2 separate regions of the Homo sapiens genome follow, and region 2 is linked to region 1. Evidence: fine-mapped expression QTL. A gene starts in region 1. The other region holds a variant in brackets. All regions are shown on one strand. Distances are between the middles of the regions. Region 1 holds the start of CRACD (capping protein inhibiting regulator of actin dynamics). Region 2 overlaps CRACD (capping protein inhibiting regulator of actin dynamics).

Evidence for each region.
Region 2: its variant is fine-mapped to the expression of CRACD in nasal epithelium (TOPMed, PIP above 0.99).

What each region holds. Positions count from the first base shown.
Region 1 is chr4:56,047,761-56,050,673 of GRCh38, forward strand. It overlaps CRACD (capping protein inhibiting regulator of actin dynamics), which reads left to right and starts at 1,338. Exons shown (of 11, transcript NM_001393381.1): 1 at 1,338-1,539. RefSeq lists a silencer at 1,064-1,703 and an enhancer at 1,234-1,909.
Region 2 is chr4:56,186,045-56,188,957 of GRCh38, forward strand. The region is part of intron 2 of CRACD (capping protein inhibiting regulator of actin dynamics); the gene reads left to right. Among named protein-coding and RNA genes, the nearest start is that of CRACD, 140 kb to the left of the region's middle. The variant C/T (reference allele first, on the strand shown) is at 1,795.

The sequences.
Region 1 (2,913 bases):
GCATTATTCTAATTTGGAATAAAGCAGACATAGTTTAGGATATGTGCACACTGAACTAAGTATCTATATTCACGAAAATACAAAGCCATATATTATACTGATATTTAACTTAAATGTTTATCTAGAATAAACCAGTTGGATAAGGTAACATGCACTAGATTCTCCCAGTCTCAAGGTTGCTCCTTTAAGTCATGCAGTGAAATTACTAGTCCTTGGCCAATAAGGTGAAACCTCGTCTCTACTAAAAATAAAAACAAAAATTAGCTGGGTGTGGTGGCGGGCGCCTGTAATCCCAGCTACTCAGAGGGAGACTGTGGCAAGAAAATCGCCTGAACCCGGGAGTTGGAGGTTGCAGTGAGCTGAGATCGCGCCACTGCACTCCAGCCTGGGCAACAAGAAACTCCGTCTCAAAAAAAAAAAAAAAAAAAAAAGAAAAGAAATTACTAGTCCTATTTTTGGCATTTGGGACATCTGGCTCAATACTGGGTATAATTTAGGGCTATCTTTCGTATTTTGCATCTTTTGTCTAGTCATTTTGCTTTAAAATTTCCTGTTTAATAATGATATTCAATTATTTTTAGCATCCTTGCATACATAGTAAACTAAAAAGATCACCAGAAACTGATTTCCAGTAGTTGCACTGGCATAGTCACAACAAAAAGTATGAAGGAAAAGTCTTGTTTTCTTCGTTAGCCCACAAAAGGAGAAGTCATTTTCCTTAAAGCATCAAAATCAATATTTAATTTCATTATGGCTGGGGACAATAATGCACATTGTCAATGTCACTCCGTTCGGATGTACAGGGACTCAGCAATGCAATTTCTAGCCTTTCTATTTCTAGGTGGCATTTTCCAACTTACTCAACTCTCAGGAGTCCCAGTGCCATTTATTGTGGTTGGGACTCTGCAGGGCGAAACTTCTCCTGGGCTCCCGGTATCTCCTATTAGAGAGACTGCTGCGGGTAACAGGGACCGAATTTGCAACCTGTGGGGTGGTGACTGATGGTCCAATGTTCTCGCCACACGCAGGATGAGCCTCGCTGTGAGCCCACCACTGTAACCTCAGACCCCACGAGTTCAGCACTCCCTCGAGTCAGGCTTTGCAGAAGCCGGGAGGGCACTGGTCAACCCCACGCCCCTCCTTGGGGCCCGCTCCTGGTTTCTGGGCACCCCTGGGGAGGGGAGCCATCTGGTGTGCGCCACTCCCGGAGGGCGCGAGAAGGAAGCCGGCGCCTCACGCTCAGCTGTCCCTGGGCGAAGCCGGGCGGGGCGGCGGCGCGGGTCCGAGCGCCCGAGGCGCCGGCGGAGCATGTGACCACGCCGCGCGGGGCCGGGCGCGCAGTGCCGCGCGGTGGCGGCAGTGGGGAGAGCAATGGAGGCCACGGCCGACTGAGAGGCGGGTGCGCTGCTGGTGCTGCTGCCGCGGCGGCTGCTGATGCGGAGGCTGCCGCGCGCAGTGCCGCCGAGTCCGCCGCCCGCCCGGGACCGCCGGTCGCCGGCCAGCCGCTCTGCCAGCCGGAGCGCCAGGCGGGGACCTCAGGTGAGCGCCTGCTCGGCCCGCGGCCGGAGCCAGACAATGGGGACAGGGGCGGGCTTCTCTCCTCCACTCGCGCCCCTCCGGGCCGGGCCCCCGCAGCGCCCCGGGACTCCAGGGGACCTGGCCCCGGGGGCGTGGGCTCGGCGCGGCGGGCGGTGGGCTTCGGGGCGGTGTCCCCATGTGGGAGGCGCGGACCCTCCCGGAGGAACCTGCGCGCGGCTTGCGCGCTTTGGATCCCCGCAGGGGAACCTGCCGCCGGGCTGCACCCCGGGAACTTGCGGAGAATATGGGACCTCGCCTGCCTTCTCCTCTTCCCGCGCCTCGCCATCCTGTCCCCAGGTCCCTGGCTCGGTCCCGACCGCGGCAAGGGCCAGAACCAGACCTCACCGTCCGGGATCGCGGACGCCGTCCGGGCTCAGCCCTCTCCCCACCGCCCCCGGAGCTGCATTGCTTTGTTTAACCTCTGCCAGACCGTTTCGCACAAACTCTTGTTGCCCCAATTCTGATGAGCCACCAGTTTGATAGCTGAGGCAAGACAAAGGTTTCCCCTGTTTACCAAGGGCCGGGGCCAGGAGACTGCGCGCTGCCCGTGGTGTAAAATCTGTTTTCTTTATCTTCGCCCGGGGCTTGTTGCGATGGTTTTCCTGGCACTATAACCGTCCTTTCTTGCAGAGCTCTGTAGTGGCGAGATTGGACCTCCTAACCCTACGGATACGGTGGGTGGGGTATGGCTTTTTTTTTTTCATGATTATCAGTAAACAGAAGCCGACTTTGAATTTTATAATATGTGTTCTTGAGTTAGAGACATCGTAATCATTTTCTGAATTCTGAATTTTAAGAGAATATATATTTCAAGACACATTGATTCAGTGGAGGGGGAGGGGGAAGAAAACCTAGTAAGTACGACCATGTGTTGTGAAATTTTAATATGGTTTTAGGAATAATGGCTGGGAAACTGATCTGGTGTAGGTGAGGGAGTGTGTGTGTGTGTGTGTGTGTGTGTGTGTGTGTGTGTGTGTATTGGGGGTGGTAAGTGGTGGTGGTGGAGAGGGAGTGGTTAGAATACAAAGGATAAGGCAGTTTTAGAAAAAGATTCTTAGTAAATATCCTGTGGCAAATTTTTGATTCATTAAGTTGTGAGTTAAATCAATGTTTCCTTTAAAAATCACCTATAGTAATTGTGGAATTATATAAAAAATGGCTCACAGTTCTTTGGCATTGTTTGTGACTCAGGAATCTGAATAAAACAGTCAGTTTTGAGTAATTTTTAAAAAGTCAACAAAGAGAAGACTCCTTCACTACTGTCTCCTTTATCCTTTGGGAAAAGGGAATCCTTGTTCAGTATATTCAAGAGAAAATTGCCTATATGAAAAAAAA
Region 2 (2,913 bases), 140 kb after region 1:
CTGGGATGCAGACAGCAGCGACTTGAAATGAGATTCCTCTCTCCATCTGCCAGACGTAACCCAAGATGAGTTGCACAGATGAAGCTGGCAGAGAAATGGGAAACTGGATGGCAAATGAGGTTCTGAGGGAAGCAAAATTCTAGCTAAATCCTTTTGTGATGGTAGAAGAGCTCTTGGTCTAATAATACAGAACTTAAGAATTAGGTTGGTGTAGTGCTAGTGGTTCAGCAAATGCAACCTGTCTGCAAGTCTCTTTCCTGTAGACTTCCTGGGAGTGTAGTGTTTATGAACAGGTGCCATGGGACCACAGTTAAACACAGGACAAACGATGACTTGTCTCCATCAAATGTGATTGTTGTATACTGTACTATATGCTAGGGAGGACTGAATCATCAACTCTATGCTCTAAGATATCTCTTCCAGGAGCTTGAAAACACCAACTTTAGAGTAACTAGTTTGACAAGAAATAGCAGAGAGATGGGGATGGGGTAGGGGCATTTTGTTGATTCCTTTCCTCTTCCCTCCCTCCATTAACATGCATGGAACTTTTTACATGCCAGACATTGTGCTGAGGGGTGAGGATATGAAGTAAGCATACTGTTCAGGAGTTCATGGTCACTTCCTCCTTCCTGTCACCTCTCTGCTGCCTCAGGTTCTCCTGCTCTTAACAGAGAACTGTAAGTAGTTGTATCTTGTCTGTCCTCCATGATAGGATGTAGCTTCTAAAAGCCAGGGGGCCAGGCACGGTGGCCCATGCTTGTAATCCCAGCACTTTGGTAGGCCATGGCGGGAAGACTGCATGAGCCCAGGAGTTCAACACTAGCCTGAGCAACATAGTGAGACCTCATCTCTAACCACAAATTTTTAGAAAATTAGCCAGGCATGATGGCGCACCCCTGTGGTCCCAGCTACTCACAGGGAGACTGAAGTGGGAGGATGGCTTGAGCTTAGAGGGTTGAGCCTGCAGTGAGCCATGATCATGCCACTGCACTCCAGCCTGGGCAACAGAGCAAGACCCTATCCAAGAAAAAAAAAAAACAACCAGAGGCTTTGAATTTGCCATTGAACCTTTGAATCTAGCATTGCCCTAGCAAATACTTAGGGCATTGCAATGGGAATTGAATTTTATCAAATTGAATTCAGATATGTAAACAGATAACCGGGTGAAGTGTGATTAGTGATATTTGAGAGAGTTTTGCACAGAGTGCTGGGGAACACAAAGGGCAGCATAAACAACTGCCACAGGGAGCCTGCGGGCCTCCCAGAGGTGTCATTCGAGCTGTCTTGAAAGATGAGAAGGTGCTTGCCAGACACTCGAGGGGGGCACACAATCTCCGCAGGTCACATTTATGTCAACGTGTTTCTTAAGAGAGGCCCTTGGATCCTCTAAATCCTGTCGTTTCTTTCATTTATGTAACTTTAGAAAAATGAATGCTTGATTTACCAGCAGCTTTGGATCAAGCCTATAGACTGTACAGGCTTCTCTTCCAGCAAACGATCATCTTAGTACTTCTAGGGGATAAAGCCAAAAAATACCCCAAACCAACCAAACAAACAAACAACAACAAAAAAGCTATTGAATTTATTACCCCTACAATGTCCATTTTAATCTTCTTTTTCCTTATTAAAATAAATAAATTTTTTTTTCTTCTAAATTGGCCCAAGTGAAGCCAAGATTTCGTTCCCATGATCCTTTCATCATTTCAACAGACGCACACTGAATGCCTCCCACGGATAAGGCACTGCTCCGGACTCTAGGCTGACAAAGAACAAACAGCAAGACAGTTTCTGCTC[C/T]CACGGAGACCAAAAATTGACACCAAACAGAAAGCTAAAGTCAGCATGGAAAATGTCCTCCACTACTGTTTACTGTTAAAGCATAATCTATTGTTTACATACATGCACACAGATTAAGTGTTAAGCTTCTTGAAATAAATGACTAATTCTGAACTGCAGTTCAGAGGTCCAAGGAACGATGAAGAAGGCTATCCTATGACTGGAAGATTTACCAGGAAAAGGAAAAAGCATCCTTAGTCTAAACTTCACTGGGCACATATTTTAAGAAGCCTCAGAAAGTTCATTCCATGCAGAAAAACATCCCCCAAAAGGAGCATTTAAAACAGAACTTAAATTTTATATTAAGGACTTGGATATGTATATGTATTTTCAAAAATCGATATCATTTTATTTTCATTTCTTTATGGTGAATTTTGATGTTTTACTGTCATAGAACTGGAACCCCAATTTCTAATAATTCTTATTATTGGTCTAATAATATAGAACTTAAGAATTAGGAGACAAGGACATAGTTTACCAAGGCTTGACATGCTTGGCCCATCTAGGAACTACTTAGTGCTTGAGTTGGGGAGGGCCTATGATAGATGAGATTGCTCACCCTGATGCTGCCAATTCCAAATGCCCATCTTCTCTTCTCCATCTCTTCTGGTCAATAGCTTAGCTGTCCTTAAAGGATAAATTCAACACCAACCCAGTTTATTCTCTGATACCTCCCGTTCCTGGAAATGAGTGTTTTATTTTTTCCCTCCAGACTCCTACAGCAGCTCATTTGTATCTGTCTAGCCTCTCTCTCTCTCTCTCTCTCTCTCTATCTCTCTATTTCTCTCTCTCTCTCTCTCTCTCTCTCTCACACACACACACACACACACACACAGAGAGAGAGAGAGAGAGAGAGAGGGGTTAACATTTTCCACCTGGCTTATAATTTTTGGTAAATATGTCATATCCCCTACTAAGTGACCACCTCCTTGGAGTCAGTGCTATTTTCCTTCATTTCTTTATATCTCATTTCCTCCACCCTCATCTGAATACCTATCTCTAAACCATAATGGGCTGGGTGCGGTAGCTCACGCCTGTAATCCCAGTACTTCGGAAGGCCGAAGCGGGTGGATCACTTAA